Homo sapiens: one gene and its partners. The protein of the gene in region 4 interacts with the protein of the main gene of each other region in a pairwise test. Each region holds a gene or a part of one and is shown on either strand. Other genes may lie near its edges.

Region 1 (7,997 bases), on a different chromosome or scaffold from region 4:
GACCTGAATTTCTATACTCTTAAATTATATGCCACAGCCCTCAGAAATATGCCTGTCTCCTCTGGATTAGGGGCATCCCCTATGCCTAAGAGTCACTATAATTACTTGTGCCCTAAAACTCTCTAGCCTTGTTGCTGTTCAATATGCTATGAAATCCTCTATTCATATATGACTATGAGCACTTGAGATGTGGCTAGTATGAATAGAAATGTGCTCTATGTGTAATTACACATATGAGATTTCAAAGATGTAGTCCAAAAAAGGTAAACTCTCTCATAAATAATTTTTACATTGATTACATGTCAACATGATCATGTTTTGGATATATTGCATTCAATAAAACACATTATTGGTTGGGTGTGGTGGCTCATGCCTGTAATCCCAGCATTTTGGGAGACCGAGGCAGGCGGATCACGAGGTCAGGAGTTCGAGACCAGCCTGACCAACATGGTGAAACCCCGTCTCTACTAAAAATACAAAAATTAGCTGGGTGTGGTGGTGTGCGCCTGTAATCTCGGTTACTCAGGAGGCTGAGGCAGGAGAATTGCTTGAACCCGGGAGGTGGAGTTGCAGTGAGCTGAGATCACACCACTGCACTCCAGCCTGGGCAACTGAGTGAGACTCCGTCTCAAAACAAAACGAAACAAAAATATATTATTACAATTAATTTAACCTTTTTCTGATTCCTACATATTCTATTTTGCATTTGGGCCTTTCCTCCCAAATACATGAGAAAAGAAAATACATCTCCTGATGCTTTCCTTACTGTTGCTCCAGGAAAAACACACCATATGAGAGACATAAATGCTTGCTACAGAGGCCTAATCTAGGCCATGCTTGGGACAAACTCGATGCTGTAGTCACCCTCCTGAGGCTTACTTTCTCCTGGGCATCTAAACTTAAACAATTCCATCCCTCCCTAGCTCTACCCCCTCTGTGAGGCTCTTGTGAGAATGATAATATTACATAAACTGTAGGTGCTCAAACAGTGTTTATTGAATGACTGATGACAGAGGAAACAGTTCTATGTCATTTTATAGATAGCAAAAATAGAGAGGAACTTGGAGTTTTAAGGGAAAGATCCACATTACTGCTCTTCTGCTTCCTCTAGCTCCAGTGATGGTGTTGGCAGTATGTTTGGTGGAGGTGGTGCTGGTGGTGGCGAGGCAGTGGCAGAATCTCTGCTTTCTTTGGTGTTACTCTTGGTAGAAGTAGCAGTGTATGTGATCTGTCCTGGGGTCATAGTGCTGATGGTGGCAGAGTTCATAGGGGTGGCATTTGGAATGATGACAAAGTTGGTATTAGCAAAAAAGCTAGTGCTTTTGATTTGGGGGAGAACAGATAAAATATGTTTTCTTTGTATCACAGCACTAGAATTCTTGGCAGGTTTTAGCATTTCTTGGACGTCTTCATTAAGTACATTTGGTGTTCCATATTGCAGGTAGTTTTTAATCAATTTAACCACTTTTGGTCCAACACAACATTTTTTCATCTTGCATTTCTGTATCTCTTTTTCATCCACATTGCAGTGATCCCTGCATCTCCCCAAACCCATTAAACAGCGTCTCAAGCCAATAAATTCTGTATAAAAAAAGAGAAAGCCATTGAGCCAAGGTTAATAACTAGAGATGATGTTAAAACTGCTAGTGGGAGATGGATAGACTAAGAGAGAGTTTACTCATACTACATTTTAAGCCCAGTGTTTAGGAATGTTGATGAAGGCAAATGGGCAGGCTGAGAGCGTCTCTATGCCCCTCTTGAATCCAAAGTAAATTTCCTGTTTAGTCTGCCTTCCTTGAGTAACTTTAAGAAGCAAAGGGCACGTAGATGATAGAGTAATTATTTGCTTTTAGGATGGAATTTTAGACCTTCAACTTAGCATCTTAGGTACTTGTCAGACATCACTATCCCATCTCCATAATCTTGGGAAATACCAATGAGAGCCAAGTCCATCATAAAACTAATTTAAGAAAGAAGTTCAAAAGAGAATCAATAGAATTTTCAGGAGTCTTATCTTTTCACCAAACTCAGTAGCCCATGACTTCTCTCTTCTCAACAATCACTAGATCTGTGATTCCTGAAGCATGGTGTTCTATCTCTTCTAGCCTCTTTGGACACTCTATCTCTCAGAAGTCTCATTCATTATCCTAGCCTTAACCTCATATCCACCAAGGTAACTTCTGTATTGTTATCTATAATTCTAAATTTCCTGCTCGGCTTAGTACCTTATCTTTATCTGCTGAATGACTTTTCCATCCTAATGTCTCGTGTTTCTTTTTTCTGAATCAAGAAAGCTTTTCTCCCTTGTTCATCTTAATAACCCAATGATTTTCCCTAAATTACAAGAGATTTATGTAGCATCTGCTAATTTTCAAAGCATATTTGCATACATTTCCACATTGTTTTCTCATCAAACGGGAAACAGAAAAATTCTTATATTGGAATCAGCTGCATTGATTAACCCCATTATACTCATGTGAAATTGAAGTTCAAAGTGGTTAAGTGACTTTACCCAAGATGACACAGCCATACTTGCTTATGGTACTACCCTTTTCCTAGGGTCCCAAGATAAAAACATTAGAAGATAAAAACATTAGAAGCATCTTTGACACTTCCACTTTCCCTGCCCCGAAACCCTTTGCTAATTTTTTCAAATAGCTGGATGATTCTTGTATTCTGAAACAAATCTCAGTGCTTCTCCTTTCTTTTCCAAAAACAATGGTTAATCCCCTGGCTTAGCCTTTTGCTATAATGCATTCCTAGATGCCCTTATGGTAGTTTGGGGGTTTTCAGGAAGACAAAGTCTGAGAGAAGCGATAAAGGCTCTGGAAAACCTGAAAGAATTCAAGATGGAGAACACAGGCCTGTTTACTTGATCTTGAAAGGGTTTTTTTTTGAGCATGAGGGAAGAACTTCCTCCTTTCTACACCAAGCACAAACTGATAGGAAACTTTGCTTCAAGAGGTGGTTTCACAGGAAGGGGAACAACACACACTGGGGCCTGTTGGGTGGAGGGAGAGCATCAGGAAAAATAGCTAATGCATCCTGGGCTTAATACCTGGGCGATGGGTTGGTAGGTGCAGCAAATAACCATGACACACATTTACCTATGTAACAAACCGCACATCCTGCACAAGTACCCCAGGACTTTTTTTAAAAAAAAAGGGCTTTTAAGATAGAAATAGAGCTAAAAGGAGGTAGACCTGGGCTTAGTCTTAGCATGATAGACATATACAGGGCAGGAAGGCAGCATTATATTTTGGATAGTTTCTGAATAGACAAAAAATACCCTGCTTTCTCTGTAGCTTCCTGGGTGTTTCCACTGGACACAATCTGGCAGTTGGGGCCTATGAGAATGTATCAGTGCATGACTGATACAATAGGTAAGCTCTTTAGCCATCTTTTTGAACAGCTAATCTTTCAGTCTCCTCTCTTTGGGTTTCCATTGTCATGGGCAGCCAAATCCTTGGTTCCTCTCATCTACCCATCTTAAACTTGGGAATCCACATTACCTGTGTTCACCTGGTACTGTAGCATGAGGCTGGCAAAGATAGGAAAAAGGAGCTTCATGGTTGGGTGCCAGAGAGGAAGCCTTGAATCTGGGTTGATGCTCCTGAGCTCCAGCCTTTATTGGCCTCTTCGTGGCCTTATGCCATGAGCAGTGAAGTGCAGCCAAAGCAGGTTTGTATGCTGCTCGCAGTATAGTTGTGTTTTTTCTGACTCTGTTTGAAAACACCCTTTCTTGAACACCTCTATGCAACAAATTCCTTGCTCTTGATCCTGGAGGAAAACATAAGATAGGTAAGATGAGAAAGAAAGAGCAAGCCCTTTGCATGTGTCTCTCTTTTGCTTTTTTGAGATGGAGTCTCACTCTGTTGCCCAGGCTGGAGTGCAGTGGCGTGATCTCGACTCACTGCAACCTCCGCCTCCCAGGTTCAGGCAATCCTCCTGCCTCAGCCTCCCAAGTAGAGTATCTGGGACTACAGGCATGCACCACCATGCCCAGCTAACTTTTGTATTTTCAGTAGAGACGGGGTTTCACCATGTTGGCCAGGCTGGTCTCAAACTCCTGACCTCAAGTGATCCGCCCACCTTGGCCTCCCAAAGTGCTGGGGTTCCAGGCATGAGCCACCGCACCCAGTCGCATGTCTCTTTCTTAACGTTGGAGTAGGATAAGAGTTAGATATTTGATTCACTGATTGTCAGCCCAGTTATGCTAAGGTTGGCACTTAGTGCATGAGAATTAGAAGAGCTAGAGGAGAGTGAAGATTCTGCCTTGTTTGTACTGGTATGTCCAGTGGCCAGCATGGGTATTGGATCAACATACAAAGTCAGTACGTTTGTTAAACAAGTTCGTGGGAGACAGCTCTTGGCACATCTTTAACTTTTGAGTTTACAATGATTCCCACATCCTTTTAAAGTAGCAACTAAAAAAAAACTTTTTTAACTTCGCGGGTATATGTGCAGGATGTGCTGGTTTGTTACATAGGTAATGTGTGTCATGGGGGTTGGTTGTATAGATTATTTCATCACCCAGCTATTAAGCCTAGTGTCCATTAGTTATTTTTCCTCATCCTCTCCCTCCTCCCACCTTCCACTCTCCAGTAAGCTCCAGTGTGTGTTGTTCCCCTCTGTGTGTCCATGTGTTCTCATCATTTTGCTCCCACCTATAAGTGAGAACATGCAGTATTTGGTTTTCTGTTTCTGCCTTCATTTGCTAAGGATAATGGCCTCCAGCTCCATCCATGTCCCTGCAAAGGACACGATCTCATTCTTTTTTATGGCTGCATAGTATTCCGTGGTATATATGTACCACATTTTCTTTATCCATTCTTTATCCAAATGGCCAAATGATGGGCATTTGGGTTGATTCTATGTCTTTGTTATTGTGAATAGCGCTGCAGTGAACATATGCATGCATGTGTCTTTATAATAGAACCATTTATATTCCTTTGGGCATATACCCAGTAATAGGATTGCTAGGTCAAATGGTATTTCTGACTTTAGGTTTTTGAGGGATTGCCACACTATCTTCCACAATGGTTGAAATAATTAAAAGCAGCAATTTTTATAGTGTACTGCTCAGATTCCTTGGTCGTAGCTGATTGATCCAGGTGTAACAATAGAACCAAGCCTACCAATCAGATGCTTTCCCCTGCTAATTTGGGACATTTCCTAAGAAACTCAGATATTGAAGCTCATTGGCTCTGAATATTATTAATTGTTCAAGTTTCAAGAGTTTCCCTGGTTCCTCGCCTTCCTGAAATTCATGTCTTCTTAGGATTTCATTAGCTACTATAGTATCCAATGACTCCTCAGTTTTGTTTAAATTAACTGTTATTTTTTAAAACAATAAAAGCAAATCTTATGAACTTTCACTTTATGAAATGTATATTTTACTTCTATGAACAAAAATAATCAAGCTTAGGCATATTTACTTACTACTTGTCAATATCAAGAGATGGAATTAACAGCCCTTTGGAATCAGTTAATCCTGAATATCGCATATTAATTGGTTTCTGGTGTTTTAAGATGCATTGAAATAACATTATTCACCTCATTGTGTCTTGCTAGTCCCAAAGCAATAAGAATATGGAAAGTACTGGTACAAAGAGAAGCACAGTTATTATGGAACAAAAAGTTGAGTTAATAAGAATTGGAAAGTTATGAAAAATTAAGTATGTTGCATGTATATATGGAATGAATCTATCAACAGTGTAGCATAATTTTGTAAAAAGACAAATTATTCACATGTGCAAAGTGTTGCATTTATGTGTATCAGTTGGGAAATGAAAAACACTAGCTATTTTCAACAGAAATATTTTTAATACTCAGAATTATGTGCTTATAAACTCTCTACAGAAGCTGACTGTGGGCTTGGTCTCCCAGAATGACTTCCAGAACATTCCAACAAACTGGCCCAGCAGAGAATCTGCTAGTTCTTTCATAGTCAGGAAAGTAGGGTGACAGGATCCCATGATTAGACATGCTGGACTTCAAGAACACACCACGGTAGCTGTAATATAAGAGCAAGGATATTTTTCTGCTGCTTCTACAACTGTCTGTTGAAACCCATAGAGCTAGGGATCAGACATTGGAATGTAGCAGAAAAACTCAACTGAGTTTAAAGATTTAAGATTTAATTTCCCTAACAATTTAGAACTGTCAAATTTTCAATTTCTTCTTGGGTCACATCAAGTAATGTTTATTTCTTCTAAATTTCATTTTTGGCATAAGGTCACTCACAATATGTCCTTTGATCTCTTTACTATCTATAGAGTTTGTAGTGATGGCTACGTGTTTTATTCTTCATATGGGTAATGTGTTTTCAATTTTTTCTTTGTTATTCCTATAGTGAATTAATTAATTGGTCTTTTCAAAATCAGCTTTTGGTTTTGTTGATTCTATGTTTGATTTTTATTTAATTATATTTTATTTTAAATATTATGAAAATTAAAAAATATTTAATTATTTTCTCCTCTCAGCTTTATCTTCCTTTCTTTGAACTTCTTTGAATAAAATTTCATTTTATTCTGTTATTGTTTTCTAACTTATTATTTGTGTTGTTATCTCATACATTTTCAGCTTTTCTTCAGTATAACCAAGTGGGTAAGACTCTAATTTTCCCTTTATATGCAGCTTTAGCTGGACTTCATAAGTTTTTATTTGCAGTGTTTTGTTATCATAATCATTCACTTAAAAATAAACACTTCAATTTCCACTGTGTCATCTTTTCTGACATATGAATTAGTTTGAACCTTGCTATTCACAGTGTGGTGGAAAGACCAGAAGCATCAACACTTCCGGAGAGCTTGTCAGAAATGCAGGATTTCAATTCATCTCAGAATGAGTCAATCAAAATCTGCGTATTAGGAAGATCCTCAGGTGATTTGTATGTACTTTAATATCTGAGAAACATTGGTTGAGAAATGTGTTTCTTATCTGAGCATGTGGGGACATTTTAGTTATGAGGGAACTTCAAACAGTTTGTGGAAGATGACATTAAAATATAAAAATATAAAGATATAAACTTTATTTCTCAACATAAGCTCCATCAAGTTCAAGACACTTTTGTAAGCAATGGTACCAGCCACTTAGTCTATCCCTGAAGGACTGAGCTTCCTGGGAATTTAACCACATCAGTGTTCTTTTACATTATTAACTGAAGAAAAATTGGTGTCCTTTAAAGATTTTTTTTTAAGATTAGGAGATAAAAAGAAGTCAAAAGGAGCCATGTCAGGATGGCAATGTGGATGCCTAATGACTTTCCATCAAAACGCTTGAAAAATTGCCCTTGTTTGACTAGGGGAATGAGCAGGAGCATTGTCATGTTGGAGAAGGACTCTCTGGTGAAGTTTTCCTGGGTATTTTTCAGCTAAAGCTTTGGCTAACTTTCTCAAAACACTCTCATAATAAGCAGATGTTATTGTTCTTTGGCCCTCCAGAAAGTCAACAAGCAAAATGCCTTGTGCACCCCCAAAAATTGTTGACATGACTTTTGTTCTTAACTGGTCAGCTTTTGCTTGGACTGGATCACTTCCATCTCTTTGCTTTGATTTTGCTTTGTCTTCAGGGTCATACTGGTAAAGCCAGATTCCAACTTTTGTTACAGTGCTTTGAATAAATGCTTCAGGATCTTGATCCCACTTGTTTAAAGTTTCATTGAAAGCTGTGCTCTTGTTTGTAGCTGATTTTGGCACAATGGTTTTGGCGCCCATCAAGTGGAAAGTTTGTTCTTCTTTAATTTTTTAGTCAGATTTCCATTAACTGAACCAACTGAGAAGTCTATGATGTTGACAATTGTTTTTACTGTTAATTATCAGTCCTTTTCAACTGGGGCATGAACAAGATTAATTTTTTCCTCCCAAACTGATGTGGGTGGTCTGCTGCTGGTGGCTTCATCTTCAATATTATCTCATCCCTTATTAAAATGAGTTATCCATTTGCAAACTGCTGACTTCCTTGGGGCATCGTCCCATAGACTTTTTGTAAAGCAT
Region 2 (7,996 bases), on a different chromosome or scaffold from region 4:
TCAGCTGGTAACTCATCATCAGCTGCTAGACTCAGACTAAAAAGCAGAACCAATGATACCAGCTAAAAACACCAGGCCTAAAATAGTATCTAGGACAACACTGGCAGAACTAAAAGAAACAGAACGAGGAAGAAATTTGGGTGGGGCATAGAGCAAATGAGTTCAATTTCACACAGAATGATTTTGAGGTGCTTAAGGGGTTATCCAATGGAGTTTTCTAGCAAGTGGTAAACTGTAGCATAGAGTTTAAAACAGCATCAAAGCTAGAGTGGTTGTCAAACCCACAGGATTCACAAAGAATAAGTAGAACCTTGGCTGAACATTGGAATTACCAAGAATGTTTCAAAACAAACAACAAGGCCGGGCGCGTGGTTCAGGCCTATAATCCTAGCACTTTGGGAGGCTGAGGCGGGTGGATCGCCTGAGGTCAAGAGTTCGAGACCAGCCTGGTGAACATGGTAAAACCTCGTCTCTACTAAAAATACAAAAATTACCCAGGCGTGGTGCCGGGCGCCTGTAATCCCAGCTACTTAGGAGACTGAGGCAGGAGAATCACTTGAAACCAGAAGGCAGAGGTTGCAGTGAGCCGAGATCCCGCCATTGCATTCCAACCTGGGCAACAGAGCAAAAACTCCGTCTCAAAAACAAAAACAAACAAACAAAAAAACCTGATGCCTGGGCCCCAATTCCAGAGACTCTGATTTAATTGGTTTGCTGGCCTTTGAGTTTTAAAAATTTCTCGGGTTGTTCTTAGGTACAACCCAGTATGAGAATCAGTGGTATAAAGAAAAAAGAGACCCAACAGATCCATGCGAAGCACCTAACTTAGGGATCAGAATGAGAAACAAAAGCAAAAAGAACTAGAGGAGGGAAGAGAGGGATGGTTAATAACATTAAATGCTGCAGAAAAATTCAGGCTCATGAGAGCTAAAACAGGTCTTTCATTTGTCACCCCAGCCAGCTGTAAGAAAGCAGTTTCAGTAGAGAGTGCGTGCGCTGAAGCCAGCTTGCAAAAGGGGAAGCAAGTAGGAACTGAAAATGTCTTCCTAGGGCCTTAGCTGGGAAGGGAGGGACATGAAAAGGACAATGACTTTATAAGGAAGCTAGAACAATGACAAGGATAAGGGCAACTTTGAGGAGAGAAATTGAAAATATAAGTTGGGAGGAGCGGAGACTGGTAAAATAAGCAGAAGGGAGTGGGATCAAATATTTAGAAGTCTCAGTTGGCCTTGGAGAAGACAAGATTTCTTTCTTACTCTGAGGCTGGAGAAAGAGATGAAGGAAAGGAGAACAATAAAGAGAAATGGTGAGGTAGAAAGGAAAGAAGCAGAATTTTACATAGAATGTGCTTGAGGTTCTCAAATCTGAAGTTTTGTTTTATTATTTATCACACAAAATTATATGTAATCAGAAATGCAACTGGGAAAAACAAGAACAAATTCTATTTTCTCTTTAATTTGCTCCTGGGCTTGTCACTTGATTAGAAACAGAATTTTGCCAAACATGACGGCTCATGCCTGTAATCCCAGCACTTTGGGAGGCTGAGGCAAGTGGATCACCCACCTGAGTTCAGGAGTTCAAGACCAGCCTGGCCAACATGGCAAAAACCCGTCTCTACTAAAAATACAAAAATGAGCCGGGTGTGGTGGCATGTGCCTGTAATCACAGCTACTCAGGAGGCTGAGGTAGGAGAATCACTTGAACCCAGGAGGCTGAGGCTGCAGTGGGCCAAAATTGTGTCACTGCACTCTAGCCTGGGTGACAGAAGAGACTCTGTCTCAAAAAAAAAAAAAAAAGAAAGAAAGAAGCAGAATTGGAAAACATAGGCAAGAAAGTCGACAAAGCTTCTCTTTCACAGAGCTGTGTTATCATGGGACTTAGGGAAACAGAGTTTTCTGAAAAGGAATTTTCTGCCTCTCATACTAGGCTTTCTCCCCATAAGGCTCATTTAATTGTATTATATTCTTTATATGCCACTAAACCCTGAAATTAAATATCATCCTTATTAAATTTCTCTAGTTTTCTAGTTTCTAGATTTGAGAGGTTTGGCTTTACTTCTTTAAAAAGAAAGAAGGGCCGGGTGTGGTGGCTCATGCCTGTAATCCCAGCCTTTGGGAGGCCGAGACAGGCAAATCACTTGAGCTCAGGAGTCCAAGACCAGCCTGGGTAACATAGCAAAACCTCATCTCTACAAAAAAATACAAAAATTAGCTGGGCATGGTGGTGCATGCCTATGGTCCCAGTCAGTCAGGAGGCTGAGGTGGGAGGATGGCTTGAGCCCTGGAGGTGGATGGAGGCTGCAGTGAGCAGTGATTGCACCACTGCACTCCAGCCTGATTACCAGAGTGAGACCCTGTCTCAAAAAAAAAAAAAAAAAAAAAAAAATTTAAAAGAAAGTTCTCCTCATATTACTCCCCACACTAACATTCTTCCACAGCACTGCACTATTAAAATTCTTCATTTATATTTAAAACCTTCAGTATCCAACTGCATCCCACTACCTAGAACAATGTTCAACCACATCTTCACATTTAACCACAAACCCTATCCTATAGCCCCATCTATCTGTCATTTCCTATCTTCTTACCTCCATGCTTTTAAGTTTCCTCTTAGTATGCCCTCTGACCCTCTACATATCTAGATCCTAATTATTCTTTGAGGCCCAACTCAAGTGGCTCCTTCTCTTTATTTCAAAGTCTTTCTAGATCCCCTCAGTCAGAGACTAGTATCTCCCTTTCTCTGAATTTCTGTATCTCTTATTCAGTCTACAGCCTTCTATTACATACTCTATTTTTGCATATATGGGTTTCCTTCAATATCAGTTTGAAGACTAGAGTCACTCTCTTCCAAAGTTGTATCTCCAGTGCCCTACCATCCCTAGATTATGTGGACAGAGATCTGGCAGGACAGGGATGTGGTCTGCTTTGTGGAGATCATTTTACTCACAATTATCATCTGCCTGGAGGCTGATTAGGTAAGTCCTGCCTCTAGTAAGAGAGGTCAACCAAATTAGCTCCCAGAGTATTTCCTAACCCTGGCTTCCTTCTACTGGCCTATAATCCTTACTTGAATTATATTTGTATTCTATGGTTAGATCTCTCAATATTATATCCAGTCTTTTCGGTTTTCAAAAACAATACAACATAATTAAAAAAACAAACAAACAAAAAGTTGTAAGGCAATTGTGAAGTGGTGGAAAGTGCATTACGGTTAGAACCAGTAGGCACAGCCTTTGCTTTTTGGCTCTGTTCCTTACTGGCAGTGTGACCTCCAGGTAGTTCTTTAACCTTTGTTTCCTCATTTGTACAATAAAGATGGCCCCAAGGGTTAAACAGAAAATATTTAATATGCAACATGGAAGAGTGTGTATGTGTGTGTGTGCGTTATGTGTGTGTACACAAGGCCTTGCTACAAGAAGCCAATCTCGTTCTCTTCTTTCGGGGACCTCTGCTTACTGACTTTGCCGGATAGAGTGGCTGTGACCTTGGGCCAGTCCCCAACTCGACTGTCACCCACAAGCGCCCTCAGCGGTAGCAAGAGTGCGTGTCCAGGAGCTAGAGAACGAGGCTCTAGTAGTGCAATCAGGCCAGCTTTGCTTCCTAACCAGGCACCCTAGACTTGTGGTCTCCCCACAAGTCTTGGAATGGTTACTAAGACGTAGGCCACACGTGGAGAATGAAGCTTTTAAGACCTCTGGGTTCGGCTTGCCCCAGGTTTACGAAGAGCCCAGTTCCCAGAAAGACCCACACCCCCCACGTGACTTAGGACCCCGAAGAAAGCGCCTGCTACGCCCCGGACAAGATCTGGCCAAAAACAAACAAACAAACAAACAAAAAAAAAGGTCTCCCCTCCCAGCCCTCAGGTGAGGCCATCATCCCCGCACCCCTCAGCTCCGGCCTGCACCTATAACGCCAAATGCTGTGCTGGGTAAAATTAATTACCATAAACTTCTAGCGCTTTCTCTTCCATGATCCGGGGCTGCCGGGCAGCTCCCGGCTCAGAGAGGCCGGAGAGCCACAGGACTCTGCTCAGCGTCCAGGAGAGCAGCCCGGACACCCGCTGCATCTTCACGCTCAGCCATCCCTGGCGACTGTCCCAATCGCGCCACCGTCTCTCAGCAGCCTCGGGATTGATCAACTTCCTGGTCTTCAAATGGGCCGAGACAAGCCTAAAGGTTCAGGAGAGCAGAGAAAAGGCGGGGCCAGACGGAGTAGCTCGAAGGACCTAGGGAAGGGGCCTCAAGGACTACAAGTTCCAGCGTGCTTTGCTCGATTTCGGCGGGACAAAAACAATCTTCGCGGCTCGTCAGCACATTGCATGCTGGGATGCGTGAGCTATTTTCTTCGGAAGGCAGCGAATTGTATTCTGGGACTTGTAGTGTCCGCCTGGTAGAAGTGGATGTAACGGTCTGTTAACCGCGACTGACTCACTCAGTATCCGTGATAAGTTAAAGATGAATCCTGAAGGGGTAGGGGAAAGGAGATCTTGAGTTCTCCAGCACGGAGACTCTTTACAATTATTTCTCCGCGGGATCCGCTGACAGCCAACGTCTTTCTTACTTCCTGATCGGACAGGAAGTAGGTTTCAGTTGCTGTGAAAAGGGATGTCATGGGAAGCCAGTGAGGTAGTCAGGTATGGCATGGGGAGGGCTTTTTGGCTTTCTCGTCTCCTAAGGGACTCAGTCCAGCACAGCTTCCCACCTTTGAACGAATATTTCTGCTAATGGCCTCCAAAGACAACTTAGAACATAAGTTTTCCCGTGTCTAATGTGTACAGTGGTGACATAATGGAGATCGCCATCCTTAAAAGTGTATCTTGGCCGGGCGCGATGGCTCACGCCTATAATCCCAGCACTTTGGGAGGCCGAGGCGGGCGGATCACCTGAGGTCAGGAGTTCGAGACCAGCCTGGCCAACATGGGCAAACCCCGTCTCTACTAAAAAATACAAAAATTAGCTGGGCGTGGTGGCAGGGGCCTTAATCCCAGCTACTTGGGAGGCAGAGGCAGGAGAATCGTTTGAACTCAGGAGGCAGAGGTTGCAGTGAACCAAGATCGAGCCATTGCACTCAAGCCTGGGGGAGAAGAGCGAGACTTCCCTCAAAAAAAAAAAAAAAAAAAAAAGTGTATCTTAAGCCCTCTGGTGTTCGTGGGTGTGATGGATGCCAGTAACAAAATCGATTTTATTTTATCCATCCATCCCTCCGATCAAATTTGTAGGTACTAATTTGCCATAGGTGATCCATAGGCATGGAAGATACAAAGATAAAACGCTGCCCCCGCCTTCAAACAGCTCACATGACCTGTGAGGGAGTCCATCCCTGAATTTGCAGTTACAACCAAACTAACTAAACCTCTTGTCAAAGTTGGTGACAAATGCCATTTCTATTGAGAAGATAGGATTATCTTGCAGAATTGTCCCATGCTAACATGCCCATTTATCTTTAAACTCCAGTCTTGTTTGTCTAGTTAATGTAGGCCTTAGGATCACCAGACAATGAATTGCTTAGGTCCCAAGGAAATTTTGGTCAGGGTTCAATAATTTCCCTGCCGTCTATTCCACTCCACTTACTCCACAGCAATTGAGAGGATAATCCTAACATTTTTCCAGCCAAATCTAGGACACTGAGGCCTCACTTCATCTGTGAGGCCTCCCTACTTCTCCAAGCAGAATTGATTATCTCTTTCCCTGTGCTCCCACAGGGCACCATAGCATTGAACATGTCGAACTGTCGATTAAATACCTGATTTCTGTATCTGAAACTCACAGCAAGGTGCCAGGCATACAGTAGATGCTCAGTATCTGTATTTCTTAATGAATTAACTGAATGTTGCTCAAGGAATAAGTGGTGAAGCTTTCTTCTAGTCTTGTTCAGATACCTCAATCGAAATATTTATTGACTCTCTGTGAGGGCATTGTGCTTGGCATGGGTAGATGGCATGTAGAGGTTTTCAAACATTTTAGTGACACTCCTTCATTCAGACGAACTCTTAGAAGCCTGTTGGATAAAGCTATCCAGAGCACAAAGGGCCCTAGAAACCTGAGCAGCCCCTAACTCCTACTTTTCTGCCCCTTTGGCCCCACTCGTTAATATCTCAGCATCGCGAACCAGGCCTCGGATTTGCTGCGCAGCCTCAGCTGGCCGGGTGCCGCCCCGCCCCCAGCGCCTAAGCCCCGCCCCTAGGTCTCCGCCCCTCGGATCCCACGGGGTCCCTTGCGGCCCTCCCACTCCTCGCACCGTTGGATCGCTTTGCTCACGGCGCTATCTCTCGATAAAGTTGTTGTTGCGGCTTCCGCCGCGGGTGGAAGAAGATGGCGTCGGGTGGTGGTGGCTGTAGCGCTTCGGAGAGACTGCCTCCGCCCTTCCCCGGCCTGGAGCCGGAGTCCGAGGGGGCGGCCGGGGGATCAGAACCCGAGGCTGGGGACAGCGACACCGAGGGGGAGGACATTTTCACCGGCGCCGCGGTGGTCGTGAGTTTGCACCCCTCGGGGTAGCAGGCGGGAGGGCACCCCGAAAGGGAAGAGAGGCTAAGCGAGAATCGGGGAGGTTGGGCAGAGTGGGCCCGGTGAGACCTTGCCTCGGTGTCAGCAGTCCGGGCCCCGGGGACCCTGGATGTGCTCGAAGCGGTAGAGCTTGGCTTCCCGGCCCCCAGGCGGGAAGAGTAAAGAATGAGGGTTGTGGTGCCTTCGTCGGCTAGCTCCCTAACAGCCGAGAACCGCCGACGCCGTCCTTTGACCCTGCAGTGTGGTGACACTCCACGGATCCACGGGGTTATTTTGCAGGTCGTGTCCTGCCAAGGCAGATTCAGTAGGACGGAATAAGCGAATGGGATGCAGACCTTTCCCCCGTCTTACTGCTTCTAAGATGAATAGCGTTATGTGGACTAGCCTGGGGTGGTGACCCGCCCACCAGTTCTTTCTTTAGCCCAGCATTTACCGATAATAACCAAAGGCCCTTTCTGGATCTTAGTTTACAAAAGTTATGTTGATTCTTCTGATCTCTAGGAAAATCAGGCCAGAGGCTGGTGGACAGAAGGCACTGCCAGATAAATCACTACATAGATCAGAAAGCTTTCTCCTTTTTAAAGGGATGTGTTCAAGTGCCCACGTACCTCACTGGGAGCAAATCTGAAATGTGATGAGGAAATGGTGTTTCCCGTAATGTTACCGGTAGGAGGCCCTTGAGTGTAGGTTGTCGAGGTTCTTGGCATTTTGAACAAATAATTGGACAAAACGCACAAAATAACAAAGGAATGAAACACAAACGAAGCAGCGAAAGCAGGAATTTATTAAAGCGAGAAAGCACCCCACAGGGTGTGAGTGGGCCGGAGCAAGGGGCTCAAGAGCCCACTTACAAAGTTTTCTGGATTTTAAGTGCTCCTTTTATGGTTCCTATGGGTTACCCCTTATCTGGATGAAGGATTTGGTCTGTGGCTAAAGGCCGAGGTGAATTGGCGTCCTGTGCAGATGAACGGATGGTCCCTGCTTGGCCTGCGGCCAGTCTAAGGCACTCTCCCTTTCCATGTGAGACGTGGTGGATGGGGAGGGTTGCAGGGATAGTAGCCTTTGATCCTTTGCCACTCGGGCGTGGGCAGATGGGTTTTTTCCTTTTGGTTTAGCTTTAGGAAGTTGGCCTTAATTGGCCTTAGGTTCCCTGCCCCCAAACCCAGGGGGTTCCTTTTGGGAATTCAGCTTTGGGAAGTCAGCACGAATTGGCCTTAGATTCCTTGCCCCCAGACCTTGGTGTTTTCTCTTTTAGAAAGTTAACGTAAGTTGACCTCAGATTCCCTGCCCCCAAACCTTGGTGTTTTTCCTTGATTCAGCATGAATTGCCCTTAAGTTCCCTGCCTCCAGACCCTATTCTCCTGCCTCAGTAATAAATATCCGGGTCTCTAATAAGAGTTAGGTATTAGAAAAAAATAATCTTTGTAATGTGGAAATCAGTAATCAGTTATGGAACCAGTAGAGATGTTTTGGGCTATTTTATGAGAATATTTA
Region 3 (7,737 bases), on a different chromosome or scaffold from region 4:
GTGTGTACTAATTTTTGTCTGCATGTTGCAGGCTGGTTATGGCCAAACACATCTCAACTTTGACTTTATTCCAGTGGGAAGCAGTGAACACACTCCCCTAAACCAGAAAGGCAAAGAAATTGTGGCCACTCTTGTTTTTGCCAGTGCATAACCTGTTGTTCTAAAGGCATTTTAAAATAAAGTCAGCTACTTCTAAGTCACTATGTTTTATAGACATATTTATTTCTATTTTTTAGTGGAAAGACTGGCTTCACAGTTTTCTCTATATCTGCGATGATTGATTTTTTTTATTCAACTAACTTTTATTTACCTTGCAATAATGTTCTGGACCAATGTGATAAATTACAGATATGCAAATTTCTTTCAATGGTGTTGTAAGTGTGTCTAGCTGGAGCTGAATAACTCCTTGCAAGTCAGTCTGTGCGTGCTCAGGACCCCAGGGAGCTGATCAAAGCACCCATTCTCTTTCATCCCCGGTATTCTCCTCCAAACTATTTCGATACAATATGTTTCCATGATGCACTTAATGTGCTAGGGACATAGAACTCATTACAACCTAGCTAGTTCTGCGGACCTCTTTGTTCCGCGGCAGAAAGTCAAAGAAAAAAGGAAAAGCGCTGCCAGTTGCCAGCTTTCTGAAATGCTAAAGCATGCGTCATTTTTCACCAGGTCTCGTCTTGATATCCTCAAAAGACAAACTATGAAACCGGCCTCAGCCCTTTCTGGCATTAATTACACTGCTGTCCAGCCGATCTGTTTTTCCTATTATATGCATTTCTCAGCAGGGATTTTTTTTTTTTTTTTGTAAGACTAATGCAGCTGCAAGTTAAACTATGAATGCATTTTCATCACTATGGGAAAAAAATAAGTAAAAAAGTAAAAAGGCTGCAAAACATACAGCAAAACTTTTGAAGGACTTCTGATGGACAACAGATATAGGGCAGGACCTGGGTGGTTTGCAATTTCTCCCAACCTGAAATTGGCTGAGAGCCTCAGAAATTTCCAATACATCCAGGGTTCTGTGGAGACCTTTATTGTGCCATTTGAAACTTTGCTTTGGTACCCAGATAAATCTTGAAGGTTCAAGTTTCTATTAAAGTTCTGAAATGAAGCAGTTTGATATCACACCCAACCAGGAGGCTGCTTCCAAGGAATTTCTGTCCAGGACGATGGCACAGAGAATACAAATTTTATTTCATTTCCTCTGTTTCTTGTAGGGTTGATTGGTTGGTGGAAATGGCTGGCAGCCAGTTCTGGGAAAGATTCCAGACCTGACTCCGATTAACCCTCTCTGGTGAAACTCTGCTGGAAACCAACTCACCAGCAATTGCCATTAATCTACTTACTAATTAAGCCAATTCATTTCTAAAGGAGAAAAATTCCTTTCTTTAGCCAAACTGATGGGAGGAAATTTGAAAGAAGCGCCAAACTGTGTAACTGTAATTCAGCCAAGGACTGCTAAAACAAGGTGTTGATATATAGCAGCAGATTTAAAACAAGTTTCTAGGGCAACACTCCTTTGGAGACAGCGGCATATAGTGCATAGTAGATGAAGCTCGAATAACGCTCCACAGCGCTATACCATCCCATGTACTTGCGTTGAAAAGAACACGTCTCTCTCCAATTAAATCTTGTTCCTTTTACGCACAAATAAATCACCTCTGCAGCTTTCTTTTGAACTAAAGTATATCAGCTTTATGTGACAACTACCACAAATATATTTCCTGAGACTTAATAAATAACTGTAGAATTCTGTAATCCAGAGCCTACGATTCAGATACAGGCTCTTAACAAGGCCTTACTTGTAGTTAGGGGAATAGAAAGAACCAAGTTGGACATTACGCATGGAAGAAAAGCAAACCCGCCTTTTGGTAAACGGTGTCTGGCATTCCAGCAGAATCTTGGTTTGCATCCTTACCAGGAAGCAAAACTCCAAAGAGTTTCCCTACTTACTAAAGAATTTCTGACAGCCTTTAAGATGCGGCTAGGTGCCCTGTGCCGGGGTAAGATAAGAATGAATCTTGCTTGAGGAAATGTACGATCTCCCTGTAGTCTTCATGACCTACCTTCATGGGGACTAGTTATTGGGTGAGGAGACAGCAAAACAGGTTGATGCTTTTGGTATAGAAAGACTGGATTAGAGAGGGAGTCAAACTTTTTAATTAAAGTCCGTCCCTTCCCACTCTTAGACGCCTGGGCTCTTCTGAGTCCCCGGAGCTCCTGAATGGATGTGGTTGCCCCGGAGGTTCAGTGCGCCCCGCTCACCCAGCACCAGCCAGGGCTTTCCTTAAAGGCGTGGAAAGGAGCGCGCACAAGGCGCGCATTGAGGTCTATTCGAGCGCAGTGCTGGTTAATATACATAATCTGGAGAGATTAAACAATTAGTTTAGAAAATCCTTGGAGATAGTATCCTTTCCGAGGGAGGCACCTTACACCAGGACGGCGAGGCCACTCTTTCTGAGGCCCCGTCTGCGCAGCCCAGGCTTCTGCTGGGTTAATCAACAGTCTCTGCGGGGCTGCTCTGGCGCATGGAGGGCTCCTCCAAGGACTCTTCTTTTGGGGATTCCGACAACTTCCCTAAACGTGAAGAAAGGTGGACAGACATAAACTTTGTTTTACTTATCATACACAGACCACTTCCCACTCTTCCCCCAAAGCATTTTGCGTCATTTTTTTTAGTGGGTCTTCCCAGCCCTGGCCCTAGCTGAGAGCCTCTTCAGGAACCTGGAAGAGAGACGGTGAAGGAGGTAGGGCAGGCAGGCAGATTATCCTTGGCCTTCCAGACAGCGTGTGCCAGCCAAGCTTTGCTCTGAGACAGTCTGGGGCTCTCCGGCAGCCCCAGGCTGCAGGAATGGTCTCAGGTGCCCCTGATAAAGGCCAGTACTCAACATTCTACTTGAAGCCGTTGTAGCAGAATAAAAAAAGTGGGAAGAGTTGTCTGTGTTTGGGCCCAGGGATTTGATTTTTCCAAGTTTTAAATTTCCATTTGCCTTGCAATGGAAATAGACGGGGCCTGTGAAATAGAAAATTATGAATGAGAAGGAAAGGAAACCACATTGGCCCTGGGCTCTGAAACTGGGGAATGGGAAGATGTCCCCACCCCCTAACCTCAACGTTGGGCTCTCTGCCCTGTGGGGAGGAACATTTACCTGGTGCGTAAATTGTGAGGAAAGCGTTGGGGGTCTGAGACAGGAAAGCCACAACATGGGATGTGATGTTCCAGCTTTGAAGGGGAACAAAGGCCCTGGGCTAATCCCAGTGAAAGCCGGGAGCGTGGAGAAGGCAACAAAGCATTGCAGCCTGCGGTCACCGGTAGGTGTCAATGTGGACACTTATAGCCGGGGCAGTGGGAGAGGGGAACACAGAGGAGCCAGGCTGTCATTCCAAGGCTTAACATGAACAAAGATAAAAACGTGACAACCTCGGCTTTCAATGGTTGGGAGGTTCAAAGTGGAGTGCTCCAGAGCCTATCTGGGTCAAGTCTTTTCTGCAGAAGGGCCTTTCTTTTTCTAGTCAAGTATCAACCAGGAAAGCCCCAAGGGCCTTTTCCCAAGGTAACTTTTCTTACTCAAAGCTTTCTTTAAAGTAATGTCCAATGCTACACACTGCCATAAAGATACAGAGCTTGTGAGATGCCTGGAAATAGCATAAAGGGCATTGTTTTCTGCATCCCAGAAACTCCAGGAGGCTGCATTCAGCCCTTATGAACTTGAACAGGCTACCTAAACTTTCTGGATAAGCTTCGTGTATTCTTTTGCACATTTAATGAAAAGAAATGAAATTTCTTTTTATAAAACTATGCATACATGTAGATGAGTCAATGGGTTCCATAATTTAGAAAAGTACTCATCTTACAAAGAAGTTCTGGTAGTACAATGTTGAAGGAATAGTGGAAACTTGCTAGAGTTAAGTATACTGGAGATTTTAGTCTATTAGAAATCAGCAGACGAGGAATTTACCAACAAATAAATGTCCTGAACAATCTGGGAAAGATAATTAAGAATCTTCTACTAATACAACCCATTAACAAAGATTATCTTAGAAAATCAATAAATGGACATGATAAATTATGTTTATATGAATAACTCAGAAACATTGCTTTTTAAAAAATTTTAACACTAAAACCAAAATACAACTCAAAAAATCATAAGGTAATAAAATTCTTATTTTCTTTAGTTGAAGTAAGTCTCCTAAATAATAAAAAAAGGATGTAAATATCCTTAAAAGACTAATGACATTTCACAGGTAATGCAATTTAGAAAGAAACACTTCCATGTTTTCTTTTCTAACAATGTGCATTTTTGTAAACTGCTATAAATTGCAATTCAAAAGCACTGATCTCGCCATCCCCAATCATTTTTTATACTGATCAAATGAATGCAGATACTCCCATTTGGGAGGGGCAACATGACATTTCACTTGGCAGTTCTAAACAGGTCACAGACCTTTCACAGACCCTAAGGCAGTGGGAGGGAGCTCTTTACTAAACCGTGTAACCAAATCAAACCAATGGTTACCCCTTTTCAAAACCAATGGAATGGTTTGCACAATGCTATTCACATAGCAGTACAGAAACTGAAAGGATGGTCATCCAATGGAAATTTCTTTCCTTTTGTTTAAACTTGCAGAGCTCAAAAAGTAATACTTGAGGGAAAACAATTACATGTGCTGTGATAAAAATAATAAAAAATACACATGCATTTTTGTTGGCACCACAGGGCTCAGCTGTAACTGTCCATTTGTATGTATATATATGCACATGTATATATGTATATGCATGTATATTTATTGAAGATGTTGCTTTGTTTGAAATCTTCGGCACAAAGACACAACAATGCTGCCCTGGAGATGACCTATTGCTTTCAAGTTGCTTGAACACATCAGAATTTCCATTGTTAGGGTTGATTAATTGAAACTGATAAGTTACCATGAATAAAGATTGTTTTTCTGTTTAATGTGGTGGGCCTGATTTGGTAAATGCCTCATTCATGTAGCTTTGCAGTGCAGCATATGGGTAAAAGTCATTCAGTATCACAAACATATACAATTTATTATGCTTGTATGGGCACAGCCAAAGCCCTTTCTATTTTAATGACAAAGTTTCAATGAAAAATTTCATTTAAAGAGTCACTAGTTACATGAAGTGTGAGTTTATAATTTATTATTAGAGTTTCTAGCTCTTTCTGTGGATAATTTAAAAGATATAATATTTTAATATAGTTTAAAAAAGATGTATATCTCCAAGTTATGCCTCAGCATTAGTCATTGGAAAAAAAGCAGAATCTATCTTAAATGTTAGCAGACACACATGAAGAGAAAGCACTGTCATCTGATGCCACCTCTGTGCCATACTCTTGATAAAGTTACTACAAATGTTTCATTGCAAGGCCACCAATTACAGCTCACACTGCCCAGTTTACGAGAAAATGCAAAGGAGCTTGTTTGGTGAATAACATGCCAACTTCCTAAAGGCTTTTTTTTTTTTTTTGTCTTAATGAATGAAGTCAGAAGACAACATTTTGAAAATAATTTAGGGACTATCACATGAAAAATCCCAGTGGACTTATTAATGTCCACACAATTTAATTACTGTGAACTTCCTTTACTGGAAAGCTGATGTCACTTTGAAAAGAGTTAACTACATTAAAAATGATCACAAATATTTACCAATAAAGGGAAGGTTGCTAATTTTTTAGAATGACGCTGTACAAAAACTTTTATTTTTTGCCTTTTTCATTTAGGTTGCTCAGGTAGTAATGAAAAATATGAAAGGCATGCTAATGAACTAATGAATCGACTGTACTAAACCATCAAAGAGATAGTTACCGTATTCAGCCTTTAACGTCTCATCAAATAAATTCTCTGGTCATTCATGTCCATGAAACAGTTCAAGTTCATCCAACATTTCTCAATTAAATTAGATGGGTGATTTCAGTTCAGCCCTTCTGGAGAGTAATAAACCACATCGGTCACAGTTGACCACAGCTAGCATGTGTTTAATAAAGGGCTGGATGTCCATTGGAAAGCTAATCAGTACACCGGCACTTGTAAAATTCCCTCCTGCATTTTGAAGTGATAATCTGTATCTAATTTTTAAAGAAAAATTTACTTTCCTTTCACTCTTCTGAGGCCAATTTCTTTTCTGGACCTGAATAGAGATCATTGGTGAAACGGCACCAAATAGCTTTGGTATGTGTACAACAAAAACCCACCTCTGTGTAGAACATAACAAATTATGCAATGTTCACAGATGCGCTTCACATTGTGCCTTTTGTGAGAAAATGAAGGCCCAACTCTATTCCCCACCCCCCTCTTTATGAAAGACCGGGCTGCCAATGCAATCTGTTCTAATCCTAGAGAAAAATAAACACTCTTAATATGGAAGCGTTAGGTAGTTGTCTCTAAAAGGATTTTCATTCGAACGTTTGGTCTATGCAATTTTTGCACGTACGAATTTGAAATTACAAGCAGCTAGTTTTTCTTATGAACAGGTGAACAATTTGGAGCCTAAGGATTGAAATGTTAAATGCTCTCGTAACTCACCTGTAACTCACCTTGACATCTGCATATTTAGTGGAAATGCTGTTATCACACAGTTTCATGCGTGAATTTATAGGTTCCCAAAGAAATGCAGTAATATTTCAGTCACAGTTTTAAAAACATACACACTGAAAATATTTAAAATTTTGTTTCTGTATCTTGGTTTCTGATTATTCTTATGGGAAAAGTGGTTATTAATATATAATTCTGAAGAGCAAGGTAGCGATTTCCGCAGAAATGGTGAAAAATGCAGACAGACCTCAGGAGGCCCACCTTACCTCATGGGACTTCCACAAATCCTGGTCTGACTTTTACAGAATGTGCTAGTCATTGAGTGACTGTCTTAGAACATAAATTCCAGGCACTGAGAAAAATCTCTATATCCTCAGTGCCTCGCCTAGGCCTTTGCTTAGGTTTTCATAAAGTCTGTGGAATGAATGAGTGAATGGATTAACAAAGAGAAGGTAAAACCTAGAAGGCTAAGTAGTGTGTTCCACTTGTTATCCACAGCCTTTGCAGTTCCCTCACACATTGACTCTGGTCTTGGCCCTGTGACTTGCTTTGGCTAATGGGATAAGAGCAAATGTGACCCCAGCGGAGACTTGAACAATCCTTGTGCATTGGAGCCTGCTCTCTTGCTGCTCTGGAGAACCCTGAGAGTGCCATGAAAGCAAGCTTGGCTTAGCCTACTTGATAGTGAGGGACATGAGGTCTGGTTACCCCTGTCACCCCAGCAGACAGCCAGCATAAGTCCATCAATGACCAGCTGAACACAGAAGCTCAGCGAGACCAGGCAGAAGACCCACCACCTAGATGAAGGCATGTGTACAGGCACAGGTGCTTGGAACAGCATGAAACAGCAGGGCACTGCAAGTCATTTGTGACCACTAGGTTAGAAAGCTCACATATGGGAGAGGGAGGGGTTACGAATGGTCTTGTAGGCTAAACTGAAGAACTTGATTTTATCTTGAAAGCCATAGAGATCTGCTGAAGGATTCAACAGGGAATAACAAAGTGTAAAAAAGTGAAGCGAAATATGAAATCCTTAGCAACCTCAACATTTAAGACACAGAGCAGGGGCAAAATTGATCAAGCAGGAGAGCCTGAGAAGGGTGCTCTGAATAGGAGGAGGAGAACCAGGACAGGTTGGTGTCTTGGAGGTCAAGAGGAGAGCGTTTGGAGAATTAAGGTGAAGGA
Region 4 (8,135 bases):
TCACTGAATTGCACTGAATTATAGAACCACTGAAGTTGATGCTATCATTACTCCCTTTCTATAGTTTAAGAAATTGAAGCTCGGAGAAATCATGATGCCCAAGATGACCAGCAAATACGAATAGAAGTGATATGCACTCAGGCAATCCAAGATCAAAGTCAGCATTCTTACTAACTACATTATACACTGACTCTTTTAAAAACCTTTTCTAGGCTGGGCGCAGTGGCTTATACCTGTAACTCCAGCACTTTGGGAGCCCGAGGCAGGCAGATGGCTTGAGGTCAGGAGTTCCAGAGCAGCCTGGCCAACATGGTAAAACCCCGCCTCTACTAAAAATACAAAATTAGCCAGGCATGGTGGTGTGTGTCTAATCCCAGCTACTTGGGAGGCTGGGGCAGGAGAATCGCTTGAACCTGGGAGGCAGAGGTTGCAGTGAGCCGAGATCACACCACTGCACTCCAGCCTGGGTGACAGAGCAAGACTCTGTCTAAAAAAAAAAAAAAAAAAAAAAAAAAACTTTTTAAATCTTTTCTATTGTGAAATATAACGCAAATGTAGAAGAGTACACAAAAGTGTATACCTCAATAAATTATCACAAACACCACCCAGGCCAAGAAATAGAACACTTCTAACACTCCAGAAGCACCACTCATGACCTTCCCAATCATTACCTGATCCTTTCCTCCTTAAGGTAAGAAAACCACTATCCCAACTATGGACATTATTTCCTTGCTTTCTTTATAGCTGGGCCACCTAAGTAAGCATTCCTAAACACTGTTGCTTCACTGGGCCTGTTTTCTGAATTCCATATAAAGGAAAATGAAAAAGAATGTTTTCTTTTGGGTCTTGCTTATTTCAGTCATTATTTTGATTGATGCATCCATCAAAATCTGCATCAAAAAATGCACCCATGTAATTGTAGGTAGGTTTGTTAACTTTCTTTCTTTTTTTTTTTTTCTGAGACAGAATCTCACTCTTGTTGCCCAGGCTGGAGTGCAATGGTGCAATCTCGGCTCACTGCAACCTCCACCTCCTCGCTTCAAGCGATTCTCCTGCCTCAGCCTCCTGAGCAGCTGGGACTACAGGCGCCCACCACCACGCCCAACTAATTTTTGTATTTTTAGTAGAGACGGGGTTTCACCATGTTGGCCAGGTTGGTCTCAAAATCCTGAGCTCAGGTGATCCGCCTTCCTCAGCCTCCCAGAGTACTGGGATTACAGGCATGGGCCACCGCACCCAGCCAGTTTGTTCACTGTCATTGCTGTACGTTATTCCATGAATCCACCATGAGCTATCTATCTATTGTTGATGATACTTAGGTTAACTCCAGTTTGGGGCTATTATGAATAATGCTGCTATGAATATTCTTGTGTCTTGGCTACAGTGCATACATTTATGTTGGATATAAATGTCAGAATGGAAACGGTTAAGTCATAGAAATTTGAATGTTAAATTTCAGTAGATAATGCCGAACTATTTTCTAAAGGGGTTGTACCAAATATAATGCTACCAGCATTGTAGCATCATTTCATTACTCTGGACCTTCTCTGACACTTGGTCATGTTAAAATTTTTTTGGGGGGCCATTCTGGTAGATGTATGCTAATTTAGTTTGTATTTCACCAATGACTCGTATTTCTTGGCCATTTAAAAATCTTCTTTTGTGAAGTGCCTCTCCAAGTCTCTTGCCAATTTTATTACTGGATTGTCCTTTTTATTATTTATTTATTTATTTATTTATTTTTGAGACGGAGTCTCACTCTGTCACCCAAGTTGGAGTGCAGTGGCATGGTCTCGGCTCACTGCAACCTCCGCCTCCTGGGTTCAAGAGATTCTTCGGCCTCAGCCTCCCTAGTAGCTGGGACTACAGGCACGTGCCACCACACCCAGCTAATTTTTGTATTTTAGTAGAGACAGGGTTTCACCATATTGGCCAGGCTGTTCTCGAACTCCTGACCTCATGATCCGCCCACCTTGGCCTCCCAAAGTGCTGGGATTACAGGCATGAGCCACCAAGCCCAGTCCCTTTTTATTATTTATAGGAGTTTTAGATACAAACCTTTTGTCAGGTATATGTATTATAATTACCTGCTTCCACTCTGTGACATGACTTTTCCCATTTAATGGTGGCCTTTGATGAACCAAAGTACTTTTGTGTACTCAAAATTTATCAAATTTGCCTTCCTTAGTCTTTGTATGTCCTGTCTAAGATGTCTTTCACTATATTGAGATCCGAAAATATTCTCCCATATCCTATAGGTAGGTGCTTATGTACTACCTTTCACATACTGTTCTATAATCTACCGAGTTGATTTTTTGTGTATGATGTGTGAGGTAAAGATTACGTTTCTTTACTTTCCTTTCTCTTAGAATATTCAATTGTCCCAGAAACATTTACCTTACCTTACCCACTGCTCTATGTTAACAATCTTTGTTGCAAAGCAAGTGTCCGTATAAACATGTTTCTAAGCTTTTGATTCTATTCCTAGAGCCTGACTACTCTTTAAAAACTTTAAAATAAGTCTTGATGTTGGATGGAACAAATCTTTCCCTGTTGTCTTATTCAAGAGTGTCTTTGCTATTTGTGGCCTTCTATTTCTATATGTATTTTAGAACCAGCTTGTCAAAGCCACCCAAAAATCCCAATTCATGAACTTAGCTGTTTCTGAAGCTGAGTTGCACTCCCTGCAATGACCTACTTTTAGGGCATGGCCTTTCATGGCCCTAACCCAAAGGAAATGGAGTTCACCAGGCTCCCCCTTGACGGGTCCTGAACACTAATCCATTTCCTGTTACTTTAGTTCAAAGAGGCACTTTTCATGACCTTGTCACTCAGCTTCCCCACTCAGGAATCCAGCATGTACCCTCAGGAGACAAAAGAGCCCCAAAATAGACTCTTGTCCTTGGATCTCTATAGCTCTCACATGGATCACAGCTAGGTAATTCTTCATGATCTTTCTATCTCTCCAGTATCTTCCAGCAGATGTTTATATTTCACCCATATTTTCTAATTGTCCCTGATGAGAGATAATTACCTAGTCTGCTATTACTGAAAACAGAAATCCATATTGCCTATTTACCCATATCAATCTGAATATACCTTAGTGAATAAAATAGAAACAAAAATAGTTCTGCCCTCTGCCAGGCACGGTGGCTCATGCCTGTAAGGGAGGCGGAGGCGGGAGGGCCGAGGCGGGCAGATCACAAGGTCAGGAGTTCGAGACCAACCTGGCCAGCATGGTGAAACCCCATCTCTACTAAAAATACAAAAATTAGCCGGGCGTGGTGGCACATGCCTGTAATCCCAGCTACTCGGGAGGCTGAGGCAGGAGAATCGCTTGAACCCAGAAGGCGGAGGTTGCAGTGAGCCGAGATCACACCACTGCACTCCAGTCAAGGCGACAGAGCGAGACTCCGTTTCAAAAAAAAAAAAAAAAAAAAAATTCTGCCCTCTCTCTGTCATTGATTAATAATATCAGTTTATCTACTATGTCTATCCCCCTTTGGCTTATCCTGTCCTTTGGATCGTAATGAAGACTTCAAAAAGGTTAAATTTTTAGACAGAAATGAAACTAGCACAAAAATAATGAAAGACAGTAGTGGATTTAAAGAATAACAAAATTAATCTCTAAGGAGACTTATAACCTTTTATAAAAAAATTCACTGAGAGAAAAAGGTCTAGAAAATGTCAGTTCCTGATGAGCAGAAACAGAATACAGACCTATAGAAAGGCTCTTATTTAGGATATAGACATAGTGAAGTCTCATGCCAAGTTTGTGTGTGTGTCTATCTATGTACACATATATTTATATATTTTAAAGACTATTTTTATTAACTATTTCTGAATAATTTATCCACATTATTCAAAATTCAAAAAGCATATAAGTATACAGTGAAAAATTTCCTCCCATGTCAGTCCCTACCTCCAAAAGCAATCAATGTTATTTGGTTTTGTGTAGTCTTCCAAAGATGTTTTATGCATATAAAAAAAAGTGTGTGTGTGTGTGTGTGTGTGTATACTTTTTCACTTTTTTACACAAAAAATGGGCATGCTTAGGCGTGGTGGTGCGTGCCTGTAATCCCAGCTACTTGAGAGGCTGATGCAGGAGAATCGCTTGAACCCGGGAGGCGGAGGTTGCAGTGAGCTAAGATCACGCCATTGCACTCCAGCCTGGGCAACAGTGCGAGACTCTGTCTCAGAAAAAAAAAAAGGTCGGGGGGAGCATGCTGGACATACTACTGTGTACTTTGTTCTTTCCACTTATATCTCAAAGACCTTTCCATAACTGCACATGAAAAGCTTCTTCATTCTTTTCTACAGCTGATTAGTATTTCATTGGGTGAATATTCCATAATGTATTACCATTACAAACAATGCCATAATAACCTTGTATCTATGTCATTAAACAGGAGAATAAATAAATCTATAATTCCTGGAAAGAATGAGTCAAAGGGGCATATATTGTAATTCTGATGGATATTGACAAGTTGCCCTCCACAGAATCTGTACCAATTTACAATCTCATTAGCAAAGCATGAGAGTGTCTGCTTCTGCACACCGACCAACAAAGTGAGTTAGCAAACTACCAAGTGTAGTTAGGATTTCCAATTCCCTTATTATGATTTAGGTTGAGCATTTTTCACATGGTAAGCACCACTTCTCATAGCATTTTAACAACTTAATGTATACTGGAAAAAAATATGCTTTTGATTTTTTTTCTTTCCATCCCATAAGGAGTTGAGCTTTTGATTTTTAACTTTAAAGGAATGCCCTAAATTATTTTTAATTTTAAAGAATGCCCTAAATTACATAAGAACTACTGGTAAAACAACTTATAATTGGATTCAGAGAGGCAGGAAGTAAGAAAAGGAGAAAGAAAAACATAACTTTATTTCCAGAAGTATAAAGTGTGGGAGATGCAGCGCTGTTTCAGTGAGAGAGAATTATGAGCACAGCCTTTTAGGTTTCCTGAAGTTCTTCAGTGAAATTTAAGCCACTATGCAGAAGAAAAAGCCAATTTTCCTATAGTATAGCTTTTATTATATTAGCCAAATATAAGCCAATTCTGAAAGTATTCCTAGAAGAGATCAGAGAAATCAGGCCAGACTTTGCAAATTTAGATGGTATGTGGGGAAATGTTTTTTATTTTTAAAAATATGTATTCTAGTATATATTAAGAAAAATGGATATATCAAACTAGTAATATCGTAGGTATTATTTAGAATGAAACTTTTAAGTGTCAATCAAAATGTCAATTAAATGTCAATGTCAAGAAAAAATAGTAAATAACTAATACTGTAACGGTATTCTCCAGTGTGGCAAAGTCATTACCATGGTTCCTCAGTGGCCGAAATCTCGGAAACAATGAACGGAGGAGGAAAAATGGAAGCTTAACAATAACTTAATTTATCATTGATGGCCACTAAAGCAAAGGTGAGAGAGAAAAAAGGAACTTCCTTAAAATAACTTATTTTATATTTGACAACTTTTTAAATGTGCATTTTCTTTCTACATTACCAAAGGGTCTGGTTTCAGACATTCTGATCATGCTAGGGATTCAAACTTACTGTGTACTTCGTACTTTCCCTACAAGGAGAACCAAAAAGCAGGTTTTTTTCAAAAGCATTTGAATATCAGGTCAGGGTTCTTTAGAACAGGCCTCAGAGGATTTCCCCCTCAGTAAACAGGCTGCAAAGAGATAATTAGCCTGTCATTTTAGATTCCAGTGCAGAAGAACTAAAAGCAGGCTATGTGGTTACAGACTCAAGAGGCTTAAACGAAAACAAATTAAGTGAGTTTATGTTCCAACCAAATCTAGTGACCATGTGATCCAATTTCTCTTCAGCCCTTGAGTGGGACATGCTCCTGAGAGGTCACTCAGATTGTGCACCTTTGGTTATACTGTTTAGACTGAATCACGACATGAATAATCAACTATCTGACTAATCGACTATCTGGACACTAAAAACACAACCACTGTAAGAAAAAGAAAGCCACAGGCAGACAAAATGTTAACATTTTGACATAAAACCACAATAGAAAACTAAAAAACATCAAGGCTGTTTGTCATTGACTCCCTATTATTCTTACCATTCAACATGGTAGCCACCAAATTTTGAATTTTAATTCATGCACATTGAAATAGCCACAGATATTATATATATATATATATATATATATATATATATATATATATATATATTTTTTTTTTTTTTTTTTTTTTTTTTTTTTTGAGACAGCGTCTCCCTCTGTCGCCCAGGCTGGAGTGCAGTGGTGCAATCTCGGCTCACTGCAACCTCTGCCTCCTGGGTTCAAGTGATTCTCCTGCCTCAGCCTCCTGAGTAGCTGGGACAGATATGAAATATTTTCATCACTGCAAAAAGACTTATTGTAATATTCTAACTTCTACCTTAGAACCATGAACAAGTTTACCTGACCTGTTTCCATCCTCAACATCTAAATGTATTGATAGCTCTGGGGGACATACACACCAAACTAAGTTCTACTGCTGACTTCAGGATCACAATAGAGTTTTATTTTCCTTTAAACTTAAAAAAAAAACAAAAACAAAAACAAAAAAACCTGCCTTTAAGTGATGCAACAAGTATGCCTCAGATAGTTTCATAATTAAAGAATGATTTATCTCTCCTCTGGGGAACTGAAGAACCCAGGTGCCTCAAATAAAAGACTATTAAAAACAATTACAATGCATAAAACAATAAGAACACCATGACCACTGGAGAGCTTAGTTCATAAGAACATAAATCCTTTCCTTCCTTTTCACCAAAACCTCAGCTAACAAACATGAAGACACTCAATAGGTATTCTCTGCAGAGAACACTTTTAAAAAACAAGTTATGGTTATTCTGGATAATGACACATTCCTGCTTTGAAGGAATAAGATACACCAAAAAACCAAAACCCTTAACTCAACAATACCTGATATGGCTTGGATGTTTGTTCCCTCCAAATCTCACGCTGAAATGTGATTTCCAATGTTAGAGGTGAGGTCTGGTGGGAGGTGACTGGATCGTGGAGATGAATCCCTCATGAATGATTTGGCATCATCCTCTTGATGATAAGTGAGTTCTCACTCAGTTAGTTCACCTGAGATATGGTTGTTTAAAAGAGTCTGGGACCTCCTCCCGTCTCTCTCTCTCTCACTCCCAACTCTCGCCATGTGACATACCTGCTCCCCCTTTCAGTATGATTCTAAGCTTCTTGAGGCCCTCACCAGAAACAGATACCAACACCACACTTCCTGTACACCCTGCAATACCATGAGCCAATTAAAACTCTTTTCTTATAAATTACTCAGTCTCAGGTATTCCAAATGGACTAACAGAACACCTGAATATCCAATTCCATTTCTTACTGCTGTTTTCTCTCTGAAAGGGTGAGAGAAATCTCATTAAATTTCATTCTTTCTTAGAGCTCTATTGCTTACTCATTGTATCATTTTCTAGAGGAAGATGGCAGAAGGATCCAATCAAACGAATTCCAAGTTTAAAGCAGTTTTTTGGGGTTTACGCCCAAGCCTCTGGTCCAGGCCAAATATAGTATTTCCACACTGCTTTGGAAGCCCAGCTTAACTCTAACACAGCGTTCCCAAAAGCAGCACCACTGACATCTGGAGCCAGATACCTCCTTGTTATGGGGATTGCCCTGTGCCTTGCAGGATGTTTAGCAAACATCCCTAGCCTATCCTCACTAGATGTCAGCAATAGCTGCCACCAGTTGTGACGAGCAAAAATGTTTCCAAACATTGCCATGCCCTGGGGATACAAAATCGTACCTGGTTGAAAACCATTGCTCTAACCCAAGGAACATTCTTGGTTATCTCAACCCTAATTCTTCACATTCATTAGATGCTCATCCAGATCTCTGCATTCAGACTTTCTCTCACCATCAAACTCAGCAAATATTTGCGAAACCTCTAAAACACAACATCAAGGGCTCTAGATAAATAAACAAGCAAGAGAGATTCCGTTCCTAACTCCAAGCAGGTTTCTTAGTAGATAAAGAATTGTAATAAAAGACGCCCAATTATATAATGTTTTGAATTGTTAATTGTTTCTCCCTGAAATGGATCTCTCATCTCATCAAACTGAAAACACCTTGAGGACAGAGACCAT

Evidence for each region.
Region 1: the proteins of TMED8 (region 4) and DEFB129 interact in binary tests that used the Homo sapiens proteins (3 or more experiments, as listed by UniProt).
Region 2: the proteins of TMED8 (region 4) and CIAO2A interact in binary tests that used the Homo sapiens proteins (3 or more experiments, as listed by UniProt).
Region 3: the proteins of TMED8 (region 4) and C10orf67 interact in binary tests that used the Homo sapiens proteins (3 or more experiments, as listed by UniProt).

Annotation. Positions count from the first base shown.
Region 1 is NC_000020.11:222,862-230,858, reverse strand, and holds DEFB129 (beta-defensin 129 precursor), read right to left. Parts: upstream 3,602-7,997; 5' UTR 3,571-3,601; coding exon 3,513-3,570; intron 1,582-3,512; coding exon 1,088-1,581; 3' UTR 973-1,087; downstream 1-972. UniProt on the Homo sapiens protein: Has antibacterial activity.
Region 2 is NC_000015.10:64,089,704-64,097,699, forward strand, and holds the start of CIAO2A (cytosolic iron-sulfur assembly component 2A), read right to left. Parts: upstream 4,136-7,996; 5' UTR 4,066-4,135; coding exon 3,942-4,065; intron 613-3,941; exon of another isoform or gene 495-612; intron 1-494. Other genes in the region: SNX1 (sorting nexin-1), read left to right, coding at 6,311-6,469. UniProt on the Homo sapiens protein: Component of the cytosolic iron-sulfur protein assembly (CIA) complex, a multiprotein complex that mediates the incorporation of iron-sulfur cluster into extramitochondrial Fe/S proteins.
Region 3 is NC_000010.11:23,201,679-23,209,415, forward strand, and holds the end of C10orf67 (uncharacterized protein C10orf67, mitochondrial), read right to left. Parts: intron 2,578-7,737; coding exon 2,495-2,577; 3' UTR 1,018-2,494; downstream 1-1,017.
Region 4 is NC_000014.9:77,366,752-77,374,886, forward strand, and holds part of TMED8 (protein TMED8), read right to left. Parts: intron 7,159-8,135; exon of another isoform or gene 6,940-7,158; intron 1-6,939.